Regions from separate parts of the Homo sapiens genome. Here region 2 is linked to region 1. Evidence: fine-mapped expression QTL. A gene starts in region 1. The other region holds a variant in brackets. All regions are shown on one strand. Distances are between the middles of the regions. Region 1 holds the start of LINS1 (lines homolog 1). Region 2 holds the start of LOC102723335 (a long non-coding RNA gene).

Region 1 (11,142 bases):
TTGTTCTGTAAATCCAAAGCTTTCCTACAATAAAGTTTATTTTAAAATGCAAATCAGTGTCCCCAGTGATGAGCCTCACACATTGCCACAAATGAATATGCCACCACTTTTCACGAGCTACATCTACATTTCAAGAGTGAACATCACTGGACATCTCACTTCCAAGTGTGTCCTCAGCACCCCTTACTTCCCATAAGAAGTAAACATGACCCAACATAGCTTCAAGCCTGAAGAATCCTTGTGGTTGTTGCTGGCTTCCAACTATCCACCGCCACTTCCATGGAGGCAGCTGGAAGTGTCAGGGAAGACGGCATGAGAGCTGAGCAGAATAGGAAATGGTGTTAATTTATTAACAATATCAAGAAAAGGCCTGGTGGTAAAAGATGAAGTGGCCAAACTATTTCTCCCAACAAGAAAGATTCACAGGTGGTAGCAACTTGTGCTAATTCCATATGAGCTCCTTCAGTCAAACAAACAAATGTCTACAGAATGCTTGACACTTAACGTGGCACAGTGATAGGGTTTGGCCACAGGTAGCACCTCCAGGTGGTATTCCAATAGAGTTCTGCATACTTAAAATGAATTTTTTAAAATCCCAGACATTTTAAGATTATTTTTCTCTTTTCTGAAAATACCAAGTGCTATAAACAATAACCACAGGTTTAAACCAAAAAAGTACTCCCTGCATGTACTAGTGCATCAACGTTTACCAGAAAAAAACATACACACACGTCATGCACACATGATCCCTGTCAGCTACACTGCTTTGAATTACGACAGAAAATAATTTATTACAAAAGACCCCCAAATAGTCAAAAGCATCAACAAGTAATTTCCTCCTGGTGTTACTTTATGAGAGCTGCGCCTGACAGAGTCGAGTCACGTGTATAAATGAAGAAAAGACTATGGAGCTGAAAAGCAAACACAATATCTAGTGGTAAATATGTCTATTAAAAAACAACAGAGGAAGTCCAGAGATGAGAATGGAAGAAAGCCTATTTTCCCTCAGGGAGTTTATTAAAAAACTGATAGCTCATGGAAGTCACCTATAAAAAGAAAAGGAATATAGCAAAGGAAGTAATTTTCTTTTTTTTTTTTTTGAGACGGAGGCTCGCTCTATTGCCAGGCTGGAGTGCAGTGGTGCGATCTCGGCTCACTGCAACCTCTGCCTTCAGGGTTCAAGCGATTCTCCTGCCTCAGCCTCCTAAGTAGCTGGGACTACAGGAGCGTGCCACCACACCCGGCTAATTCATGTATTTTTAGTAGAGACGAGGTTTCACCATGTTAGTCAGGATGATCTCGATCTCTTGACCTTGTGATCCGCCCGCCTCGGCCTCCCAAAGTGCTAGGATTACAGGTGTGAGCCACCGCGCCCGGCCAGGAGGTAATTTTGTAAGTTATGTATGTTTAGTTATGTTTTTGTGGACTCAGGAGCTACTGATACTCTGAGGGTATGATCTTCAGAAATTTTATTCTAGCTTTCACAGTCACAAGGAAAAAAAAAGCAAACAAACAAGGAAGACTTTCTTTTCCACTTGGGGTCAAAAGAAAAGAATCTAGGCTTCCAAGCTTTAATACTATTGACCATATTAAAAACTACTAATTTAGAAATTCAAGTACATTACCATCTAATTTCCATATAGATGCCAAGTGAAGTTCATTTAGTTAAACCCAAAACTTCTTGCTTCACATAGTTAAGTCTATATGATAGAACAGCGTGAAGAATAAAATAAACATAAAACAAAATATGCTTAAGACCTGTCCGAAGTTACAAAACCTTCACCAAATTTGACCATATTTCCCAAATCTCCTTTGGCATAAATGATTAGACATTAATGACTTTTTGCATATTATTATCATTAAAAGTCCACACATTTCTGATTAAGTGATGCAAACTGAACTGTGCTTTCTGATGTCACATAAACTTAGCAACAAGATAATGGCTTATTACTCAAAGAAAGAAATAAGCATTTCTTTGCAAAGTAAACAAAAATACATGCTGGTAAGAAAATAAATGCAATCAGCAACTCCGACGACATTGGGTCTGAGAAAAAAAAAACAATCCTTCAATGGTTCACATTCACAAGATCTAAGAGGGAAGATGGATGGAAAAACACTACACGGCCGTACCAAAACGGAGAACATGGCTGAGATGCCTGTTCACAAGCTCTACTGATATGATCAGGAGCCTGGAACCCAAAATAAGGTATAAGTGTTATTTTAGTGTCACTCAACAAAGTATAGCATAGTGGTTATGATCCAAAACAAATAAAGGTATTAGTATTTCCTCCAAATTACTGGGCCTCCATATAACATAAGGATTTATTACCATGCACAACTTATCCATGACCCACATAAATTCCAGCAGAGAAACCAATAATTTTCATGAAGTGTGGATGAAGCAACAGAAGAAATTTTGGACTTATCCAGACCCAACTCAAAGCTTAAATCACAAGTATTATAATGATGAGGTCCTGTCAATATTATCTTATTAACCTAGGTCTGCCAACACCATCTTTGTAGCCTCATGTGTCAATTCCTAGAAAGTTTGCAAGAAAGGAGACAATCATCCTACGTAGGGAGGGCATTCAGGGGATTATGATGTGGAAGGCTGAAAGTCAGGTAACAGATATGCCCATATAAATCATATCTGGCTTTAGACTTTTTAGGGATGGTGTGTATCTCTATGTCACCAAAGTTAAACGTGAACAAATTAAAGAGATACTGTATGTGTCATAGTATTAACTAATTGTAAATGACATCACTTTATGTGTAAAGAATGTAAGTACTGGCCACAGTATACTAAAGATGCATCATTGCATATCTTCAATTAAAATCAATTATTCTCCCTACGTGATTATAAATCTATATTTGGTGACGAAATAAATTGGATTTTTTTTAAGCCACATGATTGGCAATAGAATTAATACAAAGCTAACTGCCAGGTTAAAAAATGTAAGCTACCTAACTAGCCATGTTGGTAAATAAATACCCAAATTAAATATTCTAAATGCCTGGTATAATCTAGACCAAATACTCTCAGTCATTCTGATATTAGAAACATGACAGATGTTGACAATTTACACATATTCCCTAATCTTAGAAAAACTATTAAAAAATGAGATGATCCATGAAATACGATTTAAGCAATGAGAATGAACTGGCTGAGAGCCAGAGTAAAGACTTATCCTCTCTTACCTTATGTGCTGGACTAGCCACAGACTCCTTCCCTTTACCATCTCAGGTGAAACTACTCTTTAGAAATGAAAGCGTCCTAGAGTTACATGTAAAGCTGAAAAAATATTTAACTGAGAGGCTTGAATACAAAACACAGTACTTCATTTTGATCTTTAGAACATACTTCAAATATTTTAGCATTTTTTAAAAGTTCTGAAGTAATCATTAGGCCATCTCCCTGACAACTTCCATACTTACATAATAAAAATTAGCCTTTAAAGATTTCCGGGTAGCTTTTACTGAAATGATGTAGTCTAGTACTCCTGATTCCCTACATATACATACAAAAGCTGCCCTAAGTTTTCAACAGGGAACAGTCATTGGTAGATACTGATTCTAAATCCTATTCCCTAGAATCTCTTCTTTTGGCATGCAGTTCCATGTCTCAAGAATATGCATACCTCAGATCCCCTTAAAAGCTATGTCTTTATCTCTTTAGCTATGTCTTAAGAATTAACAGAATCAGTAAAGATACTAATTTCTTTTTGTGGAGGGCAGAAAGTCCAGTGGAACATAGGAAATCAAAAATATTAACTTCTGCTATTTTAAGCACTTCCTTGTAACAAAAATTCCCTAAACAATTTGGGATATTAAAATAACTCAGATTAACAAGTCACTTTATACTTTTGCTACTGGATGTTAAAAAAGTCATCCATTTGGCTAATTTTGGAATTAAACCTTGTATAATTTCCATGCTTATATCCCCCCTTTAGGAATTACACTAATGTCCTAAGTTTACTTTCAGAGCATTTTCAGAAGCAGCAACAAAATATGGCAGCAGAAATGTGATCACATGAATTAGATGCTTAAATTTCAATCCAGCAAACTCTACGTAAAAGTTTTAAAATGAGAAATCTTTTTTATAGAGTGCTAAAATTAAGACCCAGATATGTAAACACACCAAAAGGTTCCTTTGTTTTTAAATTCCTGAGTCAAACGATTAATAAGATATTGTGCAAATTTTTAAAAGTTCTCCTAGAAAATCTGAGGTGTAAGAAACATTGTATCTTTATAAGTTTCAAAGCCCATCCACATTTGTCACACACAAACACACAGAAAGCCCAAAGAGTTAATTATGCCTAAGTGCTTCAGGGTAATAATGTTGTCTTCATACCATTCACACTCTTAAGGTACACAGGTTGGCTTTCTAGTAGGAAATAAAATCAAACTATTTTCTGAAACTCATAAATCTCAGGCCAATAATTTACCTTTCTCTACCAAATCGTTGTCAGTTAGATAACTCAAAAGATTTTTCTGATGCAGGTAGAAGAAAGGTGATAGGAAAGAGTAAGGGGGAAAACAGTAAATTGTGGTTTAATTAAAAAGGAAAGTCATTCAGAATTAACAAGCAATTAACAAGGAATTGAGGAATTCCTATGAGAGTAAGGAAGGGAGGGTAGCTACAAAAAGGTCTCAAAGCCTCAGAGCAGAGTAAATGGCACAGTGTACCAAAAGATAATGAAAAACACAGAAACACACTGTACAGAAAGAAAGTGGGAAAATACTGTCCTGGGTAGAGAAGTTATAAAATGTTAAGTATCAGGCACGGGTAATGTTTTTGTTTTTCCTGGGAAACTGGGGGTGGGGGTGGGGGGGGTAGGAAAGGTTGCATTCCCAGGCAACCACCCTGAAAATAAACCACTGCTTAATGAGGTAGGGGCCAGGAATAAACAACGGGGGAGGGGAGGGCTGGCTCATTACCTTTACAGACGATGCTGGTCAGAGGCACTGTGCCTTCTGCTTCTCTGATAGGTGGGCAGACCTCTTCCTGCTTTCGCGTCTTCTTCAGCCAGCTCAAACCTAGAAAAACAGAAACCAGTGAGTGGTGTAGTGTCTCAGAGGTGGGGAGGGGGGAGCTCAGGAAAGGGGCTGGAGAGTGGCAAGGGCAGGCAAGAAAAAGCAGAGATTTTCCTCCCTCCTACCCTCCCAGCCAGCACTCTTCCCCTCGGGGGAAGTAAAGGACTTTACCTGTCTCCTCAGCTGCTGCTTCTCTTCCTCCTTTCAGCCTCCTCTACACTCACCAACTTCTCCATTGAAGAAATACCCCAGGCAGGGCCGGACCCTGGTGTTCCTGATCCTCCTCGGTGCCTCACGGCCCCAGCCCGGCGAACATCCGAACAGCCGAGAAGGCAGGAGGTGGCGATCCCGGCCGCCGGGCAGCCTTGGGGCAGAGGTGCAGGGAGGCAGGGAGGAAGTCCTGGCTCGGGTGGGGGGGCAGTCCCGGTCCAGGGCTCGGAGCAGGGGGCTGCCGCGCTCCGGGCCGGAGGCTTCCAGCTACGGAGGGACCCAGGAGGTCTCGGGACGGCGAGGTCCCAGGTCATACGGGGCCCGAAGTGCCAGCCGTGGGGTCTCCGGACAGGGGGCTTTCGGGATGCACTTTGCACTGGGCCACCCCCGCCCCCTCCCTTCAGCACTTTGGGGTCACTGGGATGGGACCAAGCCTTCAACAACCAATCAGCGCCCGCAGTGGAGCCTGAGCCTGGAGCCGTAAACCAGGTCCGGGATGGGTGGGGGTGGAGGGAGTAGGGACGACTTGGTTGGTTGGTTGCTTCCTTCTCTCCTCCTTACCCCCGGCAGCCCCCACCCTCTGCCTGCCGTAAAGTTGCCTTTGCATTCGCGACAGTTAAGGGAGGCGTGCCGAACGGGGCAGAGATTCGTCTCCGATTGGTCTCACTCACTTCCCCTTACAGCTTCCCCGTGGTGGCTTCCGAGGCTCCGCCCCTGGCGGAGGGACTCAAAGCCGTTGCTAAGAGACACTATTCGCCGAAGGCGGTCTCTGCGCATGCGGGAGGAGGTGCCAGCTTGTACTTTCTGTGAACTACGGTGGCCCAGAGCGGGCATTTGTGTTCCCTCAAATGGCGGTGTGAAGAGAGTTCGCCTGAGCCAGATCCCAGGCAGGTAACCGGGACCGGCCGCCGTGCTGGCAGCAGGGGAGGCACGAGTGCGGCCAAATGAGAGCCTGGTTCAGGGCTTAAGGTTGGGAGGGCGGCAGGCTCCAGGAAGCGAGTAGAGGGGTGCCTTGTTTCTCCGCCCCTGTTCAGCGCTTGTCAGACGCAAGTGCCCGGTCTTGGCGCGGCTGTCGGTCCTTGAGACCCCGTTAGCTTCCAGGCTGGCAATGCCTCGCCTGAAGTGGGAGAACGGACTCTCTTTGGGATAGCGATGACGATCCAAGGACCTTCCTGAAAGGATAGCAACGTTGGCGGGTTCCTGTGAATGAATGGAGAGGGGTCGTGGGGAAAACGCGAGATAGACTGATCAAGACACGTTTGTTAAGCACTTTATTCATTAGCAAGTGTTTACTGGCCACTGTTCTAGTCCCTGGGGAGACAACAGTGAACAAGATAGTGATTTCGGGGAAACAAACACAAAATTATCAGATAGGGATGGGTTATATGAGGAAAATCAAGCAGAATGGTGGAATCGATTTTGACCAGGACGTGATGGGCTGTATTAGATAGGTAGTGCTATGGTGTGAATATCTGTCCCCTTCAAAACTCATGTTGAAATTTAATCCCCAATGTGGCAGTACTGAGAGGTAGAGTCTTTAAGAGGTGGTTGGACCGTGAGGGTTCTGTCTTCACGAGTGGATTGATCTATTCATGGATTAATGGGTTATCACGGAGGTAGAACTGGTGGCTTTTTAAGGAGAGACTTGACAACTCGTGAGCCTGCTCAGCCCCCTGGCCACGTGATACTTTGCGGTGCTGTCTCGTGGTCCGTCAGTCTTAGACTTCCCAGCCTCCAAAACTAGACAATAAATTACTTTTCTTTATAAATTACCGAGTTTTAGGAATTATTTTATAAGCAACAGGAAACGGACTAAGACAGATAGGAAAGGTCTCTGAGGAAGTGACATTTGAGCAGGGATCTGAATGACAAAGAGCCAGCCATGCCAAGATCTAGGGAGAGAATTTTGCCAGCAGAGAGAATTAGAAATGCAAAGCCTCTGATGCTAGAATATGCTTTGCTGTTTACAGGAACTGCCAGAAAGAAGGCTAGGGTAGCTGAAGCAGAGTGGTAGGAAAATGACTGGTAATGAGACTGGGGAGTGGGGCATAGAGATGAGAAGACGCCGAGAGTCAGATCTTGAAGGGCCTTGGTAAGCCTTGTTTAGGAGTTTGGACTGTATCCTAAGGAAAGTGGATTGGTTTTTCAGAAGGAAGTGGGTGTAGGGTGGGCCTGGATACAACCACTTTGGAAGGGATCGGTTGCAGTTGTCCAGAGTAGAAGTGCAGTAGTGGCAGTGAAGATAGATTCAGCTTTTTAATTTTTGTCCCATTATACTTCCCAGCAATCATATTTCATAATTTCAACTTTCTAAATTTCCATTTCTTCTTGAAATTAGTAGCTGAATTATAATTAGAAACAACTTATTCAGGACTATTAAATGCTATCAATTTTTAGTAGCTTTCGGTCTTTCGATTCTACCATGATTTCTCCCTGTTTTTTTTTTTTTTTTTTTTGCTTAACAGCAGGACTCCAATGTAAACAAATAAAATAAAAGCGGTATTTTATTAGTATTGTTAAATGAAATGTATAGGAAGCCATTGTTTTAGATTAAACCCCTGCACTAGGCCCAACAGACCAGGCCAAATCAGAATGGAGTTGCTGGTGCTAGGTGTCACATAATCAAACAACTTAGAAATGGGCCAGTTGTCAAAAAATCCAGAAGATACACAGCAAGGAGTCAAGGAGGCCTGATTTACCTGAGCCAGCATGATAAAGAAGTCTCTCCTCCATTTGGTCTCTGTGAGGAAAGTTTAACTTTGAAATGACCAATCTGTCTTTTATTCTCTTTTTGCTTCTTCAACCGTTTTCAGCCCACCTCTGCTCAGCTAATCAGAACACCGTTTCTAAATTTTTAGTTGAGATGCTGCCAGATTCATAAATTGCTAATAAAAGCCATTTACATCTTTAAATTTGTTCAAATTTTGTTTGTTTTTGTTTTTGAGATGGAGTCTCCCTCTGTCGCCCAGGCTGGAGTACAGTGGTGCGAGCTTGGCTCACTGCAACCTCCGCCTCCCAGGTTCAAGCAGTTCTCCTGTCCCAGCCTCCTGAGTACCTGGGACTACAGACACACTCCACCACACCCAGCTAATTTTTGTATTTTTAGTGGAGATGGGGTTTTACCACGTTGGCCAGGCTGGTCTCGAACCTCTGACCTCAGGTGATCCACCCGCCTCGGCCTCCCAGAGTGCTGGGATTACAGGTGTGAGCCACTGCACCCAGCCTCAAATTTTGCTTTTTAACAGTTCAAATATAATGTACAAGTTCAGTTTTATAACATTTACTAATTATAGAGTCAAGAAGTTTTGAACTCCCAAAAAGAAGGAAAAAGAGGGAGAGAGAAATGAATAAATATGTAAATTGTTGTGGAGAACATATTCATTCTTATAGCAGACTCGGCACCCATGCAATTCATATGGTGTATTTGCTAAATGATAGTTAAGTAGAGAGATGGGGGCCTAAGAACTTGTTGGTGAAGAGCCTAGAAACAGAGTTGTCTCCTAATTCCTAGTTCTTTGTATTTCTGGCCATTTGTTTTTCATTAAAAATCCTGCCTTTGAGTTAAACAACCATTTTCAAATGATTGAAGTACATGATTATATCATAGCCAAGTAACATCATATTGTCAAAGTTTCACAGAATGTGCTACTAGGTAATTTTAAATTGCTTTATTGAATTGGTGCTATCAGATTTGCTAATTTTTATAACTTTTCAATGATGTAAAAGCAGTTTAGATTGCGGAATATTTATAACAAGTTAATATTGATTAGGTTTTAACAGATACACTTCATTTCCCATTAACTTAGTTAATAATATAAAACTCACAAAAATGGGAACATCTTACAACATATAAGTGAAATAATTTGGGATAAGTATTCATGAAGCTTGATTCATGAAACCCTGACTCAATCAGAATTGAGTTTATTTCTTGAGTAGAAAGAGACTTTGTCATTGGAAAAATGCCCCAGCACCACTGCAGCAATTCTGATTTAGCTGGTCTCTAGGGAGTCCAAGGCTCATGGGTTTTTCCTAATGTTCCAGTGATGTCAGTGTCAAGGTCAGATTCCAAGGTCAAGGACCACTGCCCAGGAGGCTGTGTCCTGGCCCATAAAGCACTTGGTGGTGGAGAGAATGAGCAGGTTATGCTCTAGTTGGCAGCAGGCAGTGTTCTGGGCCAGCAGGTTGTGTCTGGGGATCTTGGTGTAATAAAGAGGGCCACCATAAAGACAGATGCAGCACAGTTTGGAGCCCATCATTTGCCTTGTTAGCCCAACTTAGTTCAGCTGTACCTGGCAGAAAAGGCGATGGGGCTGGGTAGAGAAATTGTATTTCAGACCTTGGTCATCACAGCAAAAAGAACGCCGAAAGAAAGGAAGCTAACTGGAGGCTTTTGAGTTCCTTATAGTTCTTGCCCTGGTAATTTAAGGGATTTTGGTCTTCTATGGTATTCTACCACAGCCATTTTAAGATGGTGCTTCAGTGTGTGTTGCTTCTGTCAAGTACGTTGTCAGATGTGTCATACGGTAAAGACTGAATGAGCTCAGAACTTAATCCCTGCTATGGATACTACTGTTTATAATTCTTTGATACTACATTTTTATTATAATTTAAAATTCACAACTTAAAATATTACATGGTGTTTTTAAAGTTTTTTGAGATCAAAACGGTACTAAAATATACTTTGGGACTGATTTTAGGATTGTTACATATACACTACTAAATTAATCTTCAGCCAGGAATGTATTCCACAAATATAAGTACCTACTGTGTATCAAATGCTGTGCTAGGAGCTAGGGAAGAACCAAGCAGACAACTCTAAATCATAAAAATCATTGCACAAATCGTTAAAGTATAATTGTGACACATTCTGTAAGACAGGGCACCAGAGCTGGAAGACAGTATCACCGGAGGACCTACCCCTGCCAAAGAAAGTCATATTTAAGCCTAAAACAAAAGGGAAAGTGGGTGGAAGGAGAAGCATTGTATCAAGGCCCAGAGGCTGGAAGGAACCTTTCAAGGTTAATAAATAAAGACATATTGACATCTTCCTACTTGAGTTATACAGGTGTTTTCACATATAAGCCATTTAATTTTTGCAAATCTTTGAGTATGCTACTTGGCTGAGGTAGGTAGATAATCTCGTTTTATCAATTGAAAAATCAGATCTTGTCTGTGTACAGAATTTAGGAGTTCAGTAAAATCTAGACAGTATCACATCTATAGACAGTTCCTCAACGCTACCCTGCCACTGGTGGCGGGTTTGTGGGGGCAGATGGAAAAGGGACAAGGCATAGACTGGAAAAGGGGAAGACTAAGGAAAACCTTTCAGTGAAATATTTCATTCTGAAGTACCACTTAAAACATACAGTTATAATTTAGCAACTAAGTATAGAAAAGTATTCATATTGATACACTGGATAATTTCCATTTATTTTAAAAATGCTTAGCATTAGCATATAAAAACCTAAGGAGCTGAGATTCCTCATCAATAAATCAAGTAGATTGTGCAGTGGTTCTCAAAATGTAGTCCCTGGTTCAATTCTTGGGCCCTCCCAGACCCACTAAATCAGAATCTCCAAAGTGGGCCCAGCCATTTGTGTTCTAATAAGCCTTCCAGGTAATTCTGATGCTACGGTTTGAGAATTATCTCTAAATTATCTCTTGAGATTTTTTCTAGTATGAACACGTTATGATTCTAATGTCCAGCATTAATTTGTGCTATGTTTAAAAAAAAAAAAAAAGATTTGCCTTTGGAGTGGTCACATAATAGAGCTACTTGAGAAAGATACTGTTGCCAGTAGGCCAGGTCAGGTTCTTCGCTTCTCTGCACAAAAGAATTTGAAAGGGAGACCACAGTGAAAATGTAGAAGGTTTGTTGCAGAGTGAAAGCAAGTGCAC
Region 2 (11,142 bases), 40 kb after region 1:
CTGTCGGTGAGGCTATGCGTTAAGGCAGTTTCTACCGTAATTGAAAAAGCACGTCAAAGAATGTGTATTCAAGGATGCCACATAGTTTGTAAAAAATGTTAAGGTTTTAGAGTTTTACTAGAAATACCTGGTAAAGTAAGTCAGAATTTGTATAGTCAGTGGAATGGTAGATGCGTTCTATGCACGTTTGTGGATGTGAAACATCTCCAGTAAAAAACAAGTAAATACATGGGGCTTGCAATTATTTAGGGAAAGAAGCAGGGCGGGAGTAATACACATTCATATATATGCTTTTGTGCATGTATAAAATATGTATGTAAGACTACATAAGAAAGTCATAATAGTGGTTGCCTTGGGAGACAGGTCTGATGTGGAAGACAAAGTCTCATCTTTTTGTACTATTTTTAGTGGGATACATGCAGCACTGCATTAGGATGTTTCAATAACAGACCACATAGTACAGTGGTCCCATAAGACTATCAAGCCGTTATTTTTACTGTGACTGTCCTATGTTTAGGCATGTTTAGATACACGCATACTTACTATTGTGTTACAGTTGCCTACAGTATTCAGTACAGTAACATGCTGTGTACAGGTTTGTAGCCTAGGAGCAATGGGCTATACCATATAGCCTAGGTGTGTAGTAGGCTATGCCATCTAGGTTTGTTGAGTATACTCTGTGACATACATGACATGACAACAAAATTGCCTTACAGCTCATTTCTCAGAACATGTCCCTGTCATGTGACACATGGCTGTTTTTTGATGGAAATAACTGGGAAAAAAAAATCGACTCTTGTTCCTAAGGGTACATAAATGTTGAATGCATTATAACTCATGCTTATGCAGATGTGGTTTTGACTTGTGTTTCTCTATAAGGTTAGCAAGGAACTGTCAGCCCCTCATTACATGTAAAATGAGGGAAAAGCAATCTTACAGATATGCGAAGTTGGTGTTTCAGAATCTCTACATTTATAACTAACTCGAGTGTAAGTCAATTCATCACACACTCACTAAGCCCTGCTCTTGCTAAAGGTGACCCTTGGCTGGTGTGATCACTATCCTTGGCCTTTCTGAGCATCTAAGCGCTATTCCCAGAGTTACTTCTTAAAGGAACACAAAACTATTGATGCATGTCTGCACAGTGAATTCCCAGAGTACAACACAAGAGGAGTCTGTAACCTCACCCCTTCCAGTAAAAGAATATGGAAATACAAGTGAGCACATGGTGCTGTGCACCTGACTTATTTTAAAGCAGAAGAGATACAGAAAAGTGCACTATAAGTATACAGCTTGTTGAATTTTCAGAAACAGCACACCTGTGGAGCCAGTCCCCAGATCAAGAAATAGCATGAGGCACCCAGAAGTCCCTCTTGAATCCTCTCCCTGTCACTGTCCACCCCTGAAGGTAACTGTGTCATGAACTGAGACAACAGAGACAATCTTTGCCTGGTTTTCTCTTTCTTTTATAAATGGAGTCATAGATTATGTATTCTTTTGTTCAACATCATTTGGGAGTGTGTCCTGATTTATTTTTAAAATGTCAAGTACCTGGCCAGGCATGGTGGCTCACGCCTGTAATCCCAGCACTTTGGGAGGCTGAGGCGGGTGGATCACCTGAGGTCAGGAGTTCGAGACCAGCCTGGCCAACATAGTGAAACCCCGTCTCTACTAAAAATACAAAAAACCAGCCAGGTATGGTGGCACACACCCATAATCCCAGCTACATGGGAGGCTGAGGCAGGAGAATCGCTTGAACCCCAGAGGCAGAGGCTGCAGTGAGCTGAGATCGCTCCATTGCACTCCAGCTTGGGCAACAAGAGCAAAACTCCATCTCAAAAAAAAGTTAAGTACCCACATTTCAGCTATTATTAGTAACAAAATACTTTGACTCCTCATAATTCTCTGACACGCCTGATATGCTAGAACAGTGAGATTAGCAAACACTGGTCAAACAATAAATTGTATGGTAAACAGGTTATGCAGGGCCTTGTGCAACTGGCCCCAACCTGCTTCTCCAGGCTGTCTGTGGTTTTCTCCCCATCCACTGTTCCTTGCACAACTCTTGGCTCTTACATATTCATTCATCAAGCCCCATCTTCAGTGTTAGATTGTGAAGCCTTCCCCCATCCGTTCTTCACCATTCAATTCTGCATGCTCTATTCTCTGTGCTTTGCTCTTTCCTGTGTTGTATCATTTGTCACATTATATTTGAACCATAAGTCGACAGTCTTTCCATTTGCTAAGCTCTTTTTACATCGTTACATCATAGGCACAGCACAAATGTTGAATAAATGAGAAGTGATCCTTCTCCAGGAACTTGATAATCTACTGGAGGAGACAGATGTGCAGAGAATTATAATCATTATCCTTACCTTGCACTTCCTACTTGCTAGCCACTGTTAAGTGCTCTTCTAATCCTTGTAACAATGTTAGAAAGTAGGTCCTATTATCATTATTATTATTATTATTATTATTATTATTCTTGTTTTGCAGACATGGAGATTAAGTAGCTTGCCCAAGATCACCCAGCCAGTAAAGTGGCAGAGCTGAAGTAATGGATTCAGGTAGTTGGGTTCCAACCTCTTCTCAGACTCCCTACATAATTTATTCCTGCCTTCAAGATAGAAGATGAGGGATGTACACTATTAAAACTAAAATTGTTGCAGATTTGGATATGTGTGGTAGGTGGTATAAGTCACACTATAAACTTATACTGGAGTCAGGTCATCCAAGACCTAGGGTGATGTGCTATGGAGTATTGACTTTTCTATACACAGTGGACAGCTGATGAGGTTTTTGAGTAAATGACTGGTTTTGTATTTGAAGAAAGTGACTTTAGTGGCAATATAGTGGCTAGAGTTTATTGCCACAATAGAGTGGAAGAGTTTATTGCAGAAATCCCACTGAAGGCAAGGGCAATGGGAATGGGATCCAGGCCTGGCTGAATGCTCACATCAGCTTTTCTGCCCTCAGACACCCACTAACAACAAGAAAGAGGCCAAATCACAAGCAACAAGACACATGCGGACAAAATGGAAAAGGAGAAAACAATTTTGGAAGCTCAAAGGTAGGTAGGTTGAAAACTCGTAACCGCCCAGTGGGTTCATCTTTCCCACTCCCTAAACGAAGCCGATTTATCAAGACAGGAATTTCAATAAAGAAAGAGTAATTCACACAGAGCCGGCTGTAGGGGAGACTGGAGTTTTATTATAACTCAAATCGGTCTTTCCGAGCATTCAGGGATCAGAGTTTTTAAGGATAATTTGGTGGGAAGGGGATGTGAGTCAAGAGTGCTGATTGGTTGGGAAAGAGAAGAGATCAGGGAATTAAAGCTGTCTTCTTGTGCTGAGTCAGTTCCTGGGTGGGGGCCACAAGAACCAAGATCAGATGAGCCAGTTTATGGATCTGGGTGGTGCCAGCTGATCCATCAAGTGCAGGGTCTACAAAATAGTTCCTGACTTAGGAGCAGTTTAGGGAGGGTCAGAATCTTGCAGCCTCCAGCTGCATGACTCCTAAACCATAATTTCTAATCTTGTGACTAATTTGTTAATCCTACAAAGGCAGTCTCGTCCCCAGGCAAGAAGGGGATTTGCCTCTTATCTTTGTTTTAAACTATAAATTCCTCTCAAAATTAGTTCAGCCTATGCCCAGGGATGAACAAGGACAGCTTGGAGGTAAGAAGCAAGATGGAGTTGGTTAAGTCCGATCTCTTCCACTGTCCCAGTTACAATTTTGCAGTGGCGGGTTCAAACTAACTTAGTCGACCCAGGAACATTACATTCCTATCTGGAATGGGGAAAACTGAAAAACCTGACTTATGAGCTGGATTCTTCTGAAGGCTCAGGAGCTTGTAGTCTTGAGTACCATGCTGTACCATGGGGTGGTGGGTGGAAAAGCAATTCAGGAAACAATTACTTCTAGATCCTCTGCCCCATTCCATGTAGTTAGCCATTGCTCCCTCCACCACCTAGCAGATTAGAGGTTAATTCCGGGAGAGTGTGAAACAACAGGTCTTTGGACTGGGGAACACCAGACATAGCTGGAGATAGGAATAACATACTGAAAACAGGATTAATTAAACATTTACATACTAAATATAACCACCATCCTCCCTGGCCTTCTCCCCAACCCTATTGCCAAAACACTTCTAACTCTAAGTAGGAGGCTAGAAGAGACTTTTCTGGGGAATTTAACAAACCCAAGAAAAAAGATCTAAAGACACTGATACTGGGGTTCCCCAAATGAATTACCCAGCCAAATCACCCTACTATGAAGCCCATAGTGGCAAATATCACCATGTACATAGAGCTAACTGGCATTTAAGTGGCTCACTCTTACATATAATGTGAGTGAATAGCCAAGGATCATCAGGAATTAGGGGAAAGCCTCTAACCCAAAAGGCAGAGATCAAAACAAACACGAAACAGATTAAACAAAGAGGAAGTTAATTTATCAATACCCTCAAAGAAATTATAAAGGATACTACATAAAAAATATTCAGCGAGGGGCTGGGCATGGTGGCTTACACCTGTAATTCCAGCACTTTGGGAGGCCAAGGCAAGAGAATCACTTGAGCCCAGGAGTTTAAGACCAGCCTGGGCGACATCATGAGACTCTGTCTCTCCAAAAAAAAAACCTAAATAGTTGAGTATAGTAGTCCCAGCTACTTGAGAGGCTTGGCAGAAGGATGGTTTGAACCCAGGAGTTTGAGGTTACAGTGAACTACAATCGTATAATCGCACCACTGCACTCCAGCCTGGGTGACAGAGCAGAGCAAGACCCTGTCTCAAAAAAGAAAAAAATATTCAGTGGGGAAAAAAATACCTCTTATAAATTAATAATGTGATAGCAAAAATGAAAAAGTAGAAATGTAGTAAAAATAAGTTGAGGAAATCTAGATTTTACAGCAATAGGACAAAGAAATTAGAAAATAGGAGAGAGAGAGATGATATAATGTGAGAACTGGTCACCAAGGTCCAATAATTGAATAATAGAAGTATCAGAAAGAGAAAAAAGGACTGGAAAAGAGAAAGTATAAAAGAAATTCAAGGAAAGTTTTTAGAACTGAAAGACTTAGTCTTTAAATAATGTGTGCAAGTATAACTGGAAAAAAGAATTTAAAAAGGAGGAACAGGATCAACCTGAAATAAAGAGCCATCGTTTCACTGGCATGCTGAGATGCTGCTCTGTTTACTGAAATAAGAAAGTAGGAAGCCTTAGGAGGAAGAAAAGTTCAGTTCTCACCTGAGTGACTTCTGACACTGTTATCAGCACAGCGTGGCATCCAGCAGAGAGTTAGAAATGCTCTGTTGGAAATTAGAAGGACAGAGCCAAATATGAGTCATTTGTGTACAAGTATTATGAAAATCGTAGAAGAAAGTGTGATTGC[G/C]CTGAGAGTGGAGAGAGAAAAGGTGAGGGTGGGTCGGGGGAGTACTGGATAGAATAAGGAAAGTGAGGGAAATTTGAGGCAGGAGAACAGAAAATTCTATGAGGAAACTAAGAAAGGTTTTATAGAGCTTTGAGAAGGAAAATTTATGTGGGGTTTAGTATCTCTGAGAGCAACAGTGGGATGAGATCCGAGAAACCACCAGATGGTTTGACCCTTAGGAAGTAGCTGATGATGTTTAAGAGAGAAATTTTAGGTGGACTCAAGTGTGCACAGGAGGGGAAGAGGTAGAAACCAAGGATGGTGGTTTTCAATTTATTTGTATTCTCTGCACACAAATAATACTGGCATTTTGGGTTGCACCTTTGAAATGACAGGCTGAAAACAATACCATTCAAGTCAGAAATAGTTTTAACACAATCACCAAAGGCAATGTTCCAGAAATCCAAAATATCTCCCTGGGCACCAGCTGGACTTGCTGCTGTACCTCCTACCTCTTCCTTAACACAACCCACTAGGGCTGCACTTGGCAGACATGGACTGCCCAGATGTTTGGACACTTGACCTAAATATTAAACTTTAATTGGTCTTGATTGTCACTTATGACAGTATAAAAATTGTCTTGCTTTATCAAAATGCACATTCAAAAATTATGGTTGACAAAATGCCTTTTCTAACAGTAGGATCATAGATCAGACTAGCAAACCATTTCTGAGTTTTTCTGGTTATTTTAAAGAGGGTAGAACTGAACTCACATCAAAGCCTTTACAGTAAACACCATGTATCCCCTCTTAATTGCAAAGCTGGCCTATATATTTTTTTAAGATAAAGGAAAAGCAAACAGTGATCCCTTTCTAAGTTTGCAGTTCACAATGAACCTTACCAAGTAGTTGGAATGAACTGTAGTCCAGTTACTTACTGCATTGGGTACAATACATGCTTGTGTACACCCTGGATTGCTTGTGTTTTTCCTTTTCAGGATTTTTGCTTTGTTTTCAAAGTACACTTCTCTGATATTTATTTTAAATTTACTTCACATACTGTTTTTTTGCAATGGAATCTCACTATGTTGCCCAGACTAGTCTCAAACTCCTGGGCTCAAAGGATCCTCCTGCCTCAGCCTCCCAAGTAGCTGAGATTACAGGCACACACCACTGTCCCAGCAGTTCTCTGATATTTAGAAGCATTGAGATATGGAATGTGATCTGCCTGTGATTTTCTTTCCAGTGAGAATGGCTCAGGTGTTTGCTGTTTGGTAGAGCCTACCCAATCATTGAAGGCAGTAGAGTTGAAGCATGGTTTTACCTGAAAAATGTGCAATGGCACTATCCTGGCTCACCACAACCTCCACCTCCTGGGTTCAAGCAATTCTCCTGCCTCTGCCTACCAAGCAGCTGGTATTACAGGCATGCACCACCACACCCAGCTAATTTTGTATTTTTAGTAGAGACAGGGTTTCTTAGTGTTGGTCAGGCTGGTCTCTAACTCCTGACCTCAGGTGATCTGCCCACCTAGGCCTCCCAAAGTGCTGGGATTACAGGCATGAGCCACTGTGCCTGGCCATCTGAAAAGCACTTTCTATGCTTATATTGGCAGCACATATACTAAAATTGGAATGATACAGAGAAGATTAGCATGGCCCCTGCTCAAGGATGACATGTAAATTTATGAAGCATTTCATATTTTGTAACTTTAAAAAAAAAAAAAGGCACTTTCTAGGGGTGGCAATCAGAATGTCTGTGTGTTTTTTAAGTGCCTCAAGCCTCCTGTCAGACTCATTTCTCCCTTTGAGGCCTGTGAAGTAAGCACCCCAGAAGCACACTTATAATTGCTGATGACATCTTTTTAAGCTATTCAATAAATTATGAGGAAGTGCAGGTTTCCCCACAGCTAAACTTCTTTTATTTGCTAAGGACCATATATTGTCCATCTCCAAATCAACAGATATTTGTTTTTCTGCAAAACACAAAAGACTACTTGTGTAAAACAGAATTGGATTTTTAACTGTCAGTTTTCCTGAAAATTATCTTTTAATTTTTTTTCTGATTGTGCTATTTTTCTCCACAATAAAGAGAAAGGGTTCCCCTGACTCACTGGACTATTGACAAGTACATCATTTTTGTATCGCATAGCATTTTTTTTTTTTTTGAGATGGCATCTCATTCTGTTGCCCAGACTGGAGTGCAGTGGTGCAATCTTGGCTCACTGCAATCTCCACCTCCTGGGTTCAAGTAATTCTCCTGCCTCAGCCTCCCAAGTAGCTAGGATTACAAGCGTGCACCACCATGTCCGGGTATTTTTTTTTTTTGTATTTTTAGTAGAAATGGGGTTTCACTGTGTTGGCCAGGCTGGTCTCAAACCCCTGACCTCAATTGATCCACCCCCCTTGGCCTCCCAAAGTGCTGGCATTACAGGCGTGAGCCACCACGCGTGGCTCACATAGCATTCTTTGCTTGAATATAGCATATGCCCTCTTGATTGTGTGTCATTTTTAATATGTACAATAAACAATTTGACGATTACATGGAAGGGAAAATGGGTGACGAAAATAAAATTAATTGGCAACAGCCTTTCCACCATACAAGTGAGTTTTATTACAAATTGGTAATAGAATCAGGGTAACATTTGGGGGTGATCACAAATAGCTGAGTCTTGGAAAGGGCTGTATGGACAGAAGGCATGTCAGCGCAGCTTCACCTGGGGATTTGGAAACAGGGCTCAACAGCTCTCTACACTTCCTGGATTGGTAAGAACAGAGAAGAAGCCACCAGGATTTCATCAGAGGCTTTTTTTTTAAACAGCATAGTAAGAAGTAAATAAATAGTACTGCTTATTTTGTTACTCAATAGTCTGCTGTGGAGGATGGCCAAGGCCTGCCTCTAGTGAAGATGTGTCATTCCAGTTGTTATAGGCCAATGGTGACATACCCAATGTGGGAGGCTGGATTCACAAACACAGCAGCATGCCATTTGGAATAGTGATATGTAGAACAGACGATGCTGGGATGCTTAGGCAGTCCAAATTGTCCACCTTCACTGTGCTACTTGAGTTGTGAATCAGCTGGTAAAAAACAAACAAAAACACCGTAGAGCACGCTGGCGGCTACCAAGCTGGAGGAGGCGGCGGGCGCGAGACTGGGAATGCGCAGGGCCCCCTCCCTGCCCCCACAGCCTGGGCCACGGGCCCCATCTTCCCCGCTGCTGCGCGGCACTCAGTGCCCACCCCCCGACGAGGCCGGCAGCTGCTCCCACCCGGGGGCGTTGTCAGCTGCGCCGGGCCGCGCGCTGGGAGGCGAGGGCACGCATGGGGAGCCTCCGTTGATGCCACCACCACGCCGCCCTCCGAGGCTGCGTCCCGGGAAGCCCGGCTACCCGAGCGCTCCGGCCTGGCCCGGTGCCCCGGACCTGAGTGTGTCCGCATGGAGGAGCCCCGACTGGCCCAGGCGGCCGTGGCGGAGAGCGACCCCCGAGAGGTGTGGGAGGAGACCCCCGGCTGGGCACCCGCATTCTGCCCCAGCCCCAAGGCCTGGTCGCCGGAGCCGCCTGCCCACCGCCTGCAGGACTTCGACACACTGGCCACCGTGGGCACTGGGACGTTCGGGCGGGTGCACCCGGTGAAGGAGAAGACCGCCAAGCATTTCTTCGCCCTCAAGTTGATGAGCATTCCTGATGTCATCCGCCTGGCAGGAGCAGCACGTGCACATTGAGAGGTGTGTCCGGAAGGAATCATCCGCCCGTCCCTCATCTGCGTCCGGAAGGAATCCCTTCCTCATCTGCGTCCGGAAGGAAGTCATCCGCCCGTCGCTCATCTGCGTCCGGAAGGAAGTCATCCGCCCGTCCCTCATCTGCGTCCGGAAGGAAGTCATCCGCCCGTCCCTCATCTGCGTCCGGAAGGAAGTCATCCGCCCGTCGCTCATCTGCGTCCGGAAGGAAGTCATCCGCCCGTCCCTCATCTGCGTCCGGAAGGAAGTCATCCGCCCGTCCCTCATCTGCGTCCCGAAGGAATCATCCGCCCGTCCCTCATCTGCGTCCGGAAGGAAGTCATCCGCCCGTCCCTCATCTGTGTCCGGAAGGAAGTCATCAGCCCGTCCCTCATCTGCGTCCGGAAGGAAGTCATCCGCCCGTCCCTCATCTGCGTCCGGAAGGAAGTCATCCGCCCGTCCCTCATCTGCGTCTGGAAGGAAGTCATCTGCTCGTTCCTCATCTGCGTCCGGAAGGAAGTCATCTGCTCGTTCCTCATCTGCGTCCGGAAGGAAGTCATCCGCCCATCCCTCATCTGCGTCTGGAAGGAAGTCATCCACCCGTCGCTCATCTGCGTCCGGAAGGAAGTCATCCGCCCGTCCCTCATCTGCGTCCGGAAGGAATCATCCGCCCGTCCCTCATCTGCGTCTGGAAGGAAGTCATCCGCCCGTCCCTCATCTGCGTCCTGAAGGAAGTCATCCGCCCTTTCCTCATCTGCGTCTGGAAGGAAGTCATCCGCCCGTTCCTCATCTGCGTCCTGAAGGAATCATCCACCCGTTCCTCATCGGCGTCCCGAAGGAAGTCATCCGCCCGTCCCTCATCTGCGTCCGGAAGGAATCATCCGCCCGTCCCTCATCTGCGTCTGGAAGGAAGTCATCCGCCCGTCCCTCATCTGCGTCTGGAAGGAAGTCATCCGCCCGTCCCTCATCTGCGTCCTGAAGGAATCATCCGCCCGTCCCTCATCTGCGTCTGGAAGGAAGTCATCCGCCCGTCCCTCATCTGCGTCTGGAAGGAAGTCATCCGCCCGTCCCTCATCTGCGTCTGGAAGGAAGTCATCCACCCGTCCCTCATCTGCGTCCTGAAGGAATCATCCACCCGTTCCTCATCGGCGTCCCGAAGGAAGTCATCCGCCCGTTCCTCATCTGCGTCCTGAAGGAATCATCCACCCGTTCCTCATCGGCGTCCCGAAGGAAGTCATCCACCCGTTCCTCATCTGCGTCTGGAAGGAAGTCATCCACCCGTCCCTCATCTGCGTCCTGAAGGAATCATCCGCCCGTCCCTCATCTGCGTCTGGAAGGAAGTCATCCGCCCGTCCCTCATCTGCGTCTGGAAGGAAGTCATCCGCCCGTCCCTCATCTGCGTCCTGAAGGAATCATCCGCCCGTCCCTCATCTGCGTCTGGAAGGAAGTCATCCGCCCGTCCCTCATCTGCGTCTGGAAGGAAGTCATCCGCCCGTCCCTCATCTGCGTCTGGAAGGAAGTCATCCACCCGTCCCTCATCTGCGTCCTGAAGGAATCATCCACCCGTTCCTCATCGGCGTCCCGAAGGAAGTCATCCGCCCGTTCCTCATCTGCGTCCTGAAGGAATCATCCACCCGTTCCTCATCGGCGTCCCGAAGGAAGTCATTCGCCCGTTCCTCATCTGCGTCCTGAAGGAATCATCCACCCGTTCCTCATCGGCGTCCCGAAGGAAGTCATCCGCCCGTTCCTCATCTGCGTCTGGAAGGAAGTCATCCACCCGTCCCTCATCTGCGTCCTGAAGGAATCATCCGCCCGTCCCTCATCTGCGTCTGGAAGGAAGTCATCCACCCGTCCCTCATCTGCGTCTGGAAGGAAGTCATCCGCCCGTCCCTCATCTGCGTCCGGAAGGAAGTCATCCACCCGTCCCTCATCTGCGTCCGGAAGGAGGTCATCCGCCCGTTCCTCATCTGCGTCTGGAAGGAATCATCCACCCGTCCCTCATCTGCGTCCGAAGGAAGTCATCCGCCCGTCCCTCATCTGCGTCCGGAAGGAG

The links. PIP is the estimated chance that this variant, and not a neighbour inherited with it, causes the effect.
Region 2: its variant is fine-mapped to the expression of LINS1 in whole blood (TOPMed, PIP above 0.99).

The regions. Positions count from the first base shown.
Region 1 is chr15:100,597,110-100,608,251 of GRCh38, reverse strand. LINS1 (lines homolog 1) reads left to right here and starts at 6,068. Exons shown (of 7, transcript NM_001040616.3): 1 at 6,068-6,131. It overlaps ASB7 (ankyrin repeat and SOCS box containing 7), which reads right to left and starts at 5,663. Exons shown (of 6, transcript NM_198243.3): 1 at 5,206-5,663; 2 at 4,939-5,037. RefSeq lists silencers at 4,881-4,930, 5,381-5,640 and an enhancer at 5,811-6,150.
Region 2 is chr15:100,556,620-100,567,761 of GRCh38, reverse strand. LOC102723335 (a long non-coding RNA gene) reads right to left here and starts at 9,096. Exons shown (of 3, transcript NR_135693.1): 1 at 8,940-9,096; 2 at 8,317-8,449; 3 at 7,963-8,127. It overlaps LINS1 (lines homolog 1), which reads left to right. Exons shown (of 7, transcript NM_001040616.3): 7 at 1-838. It also overlaps the pseudogene PRKXP1 and the pseudogene RNU6-181P. The variant G/C (reference allele first, on the strand shown) is at 5,393.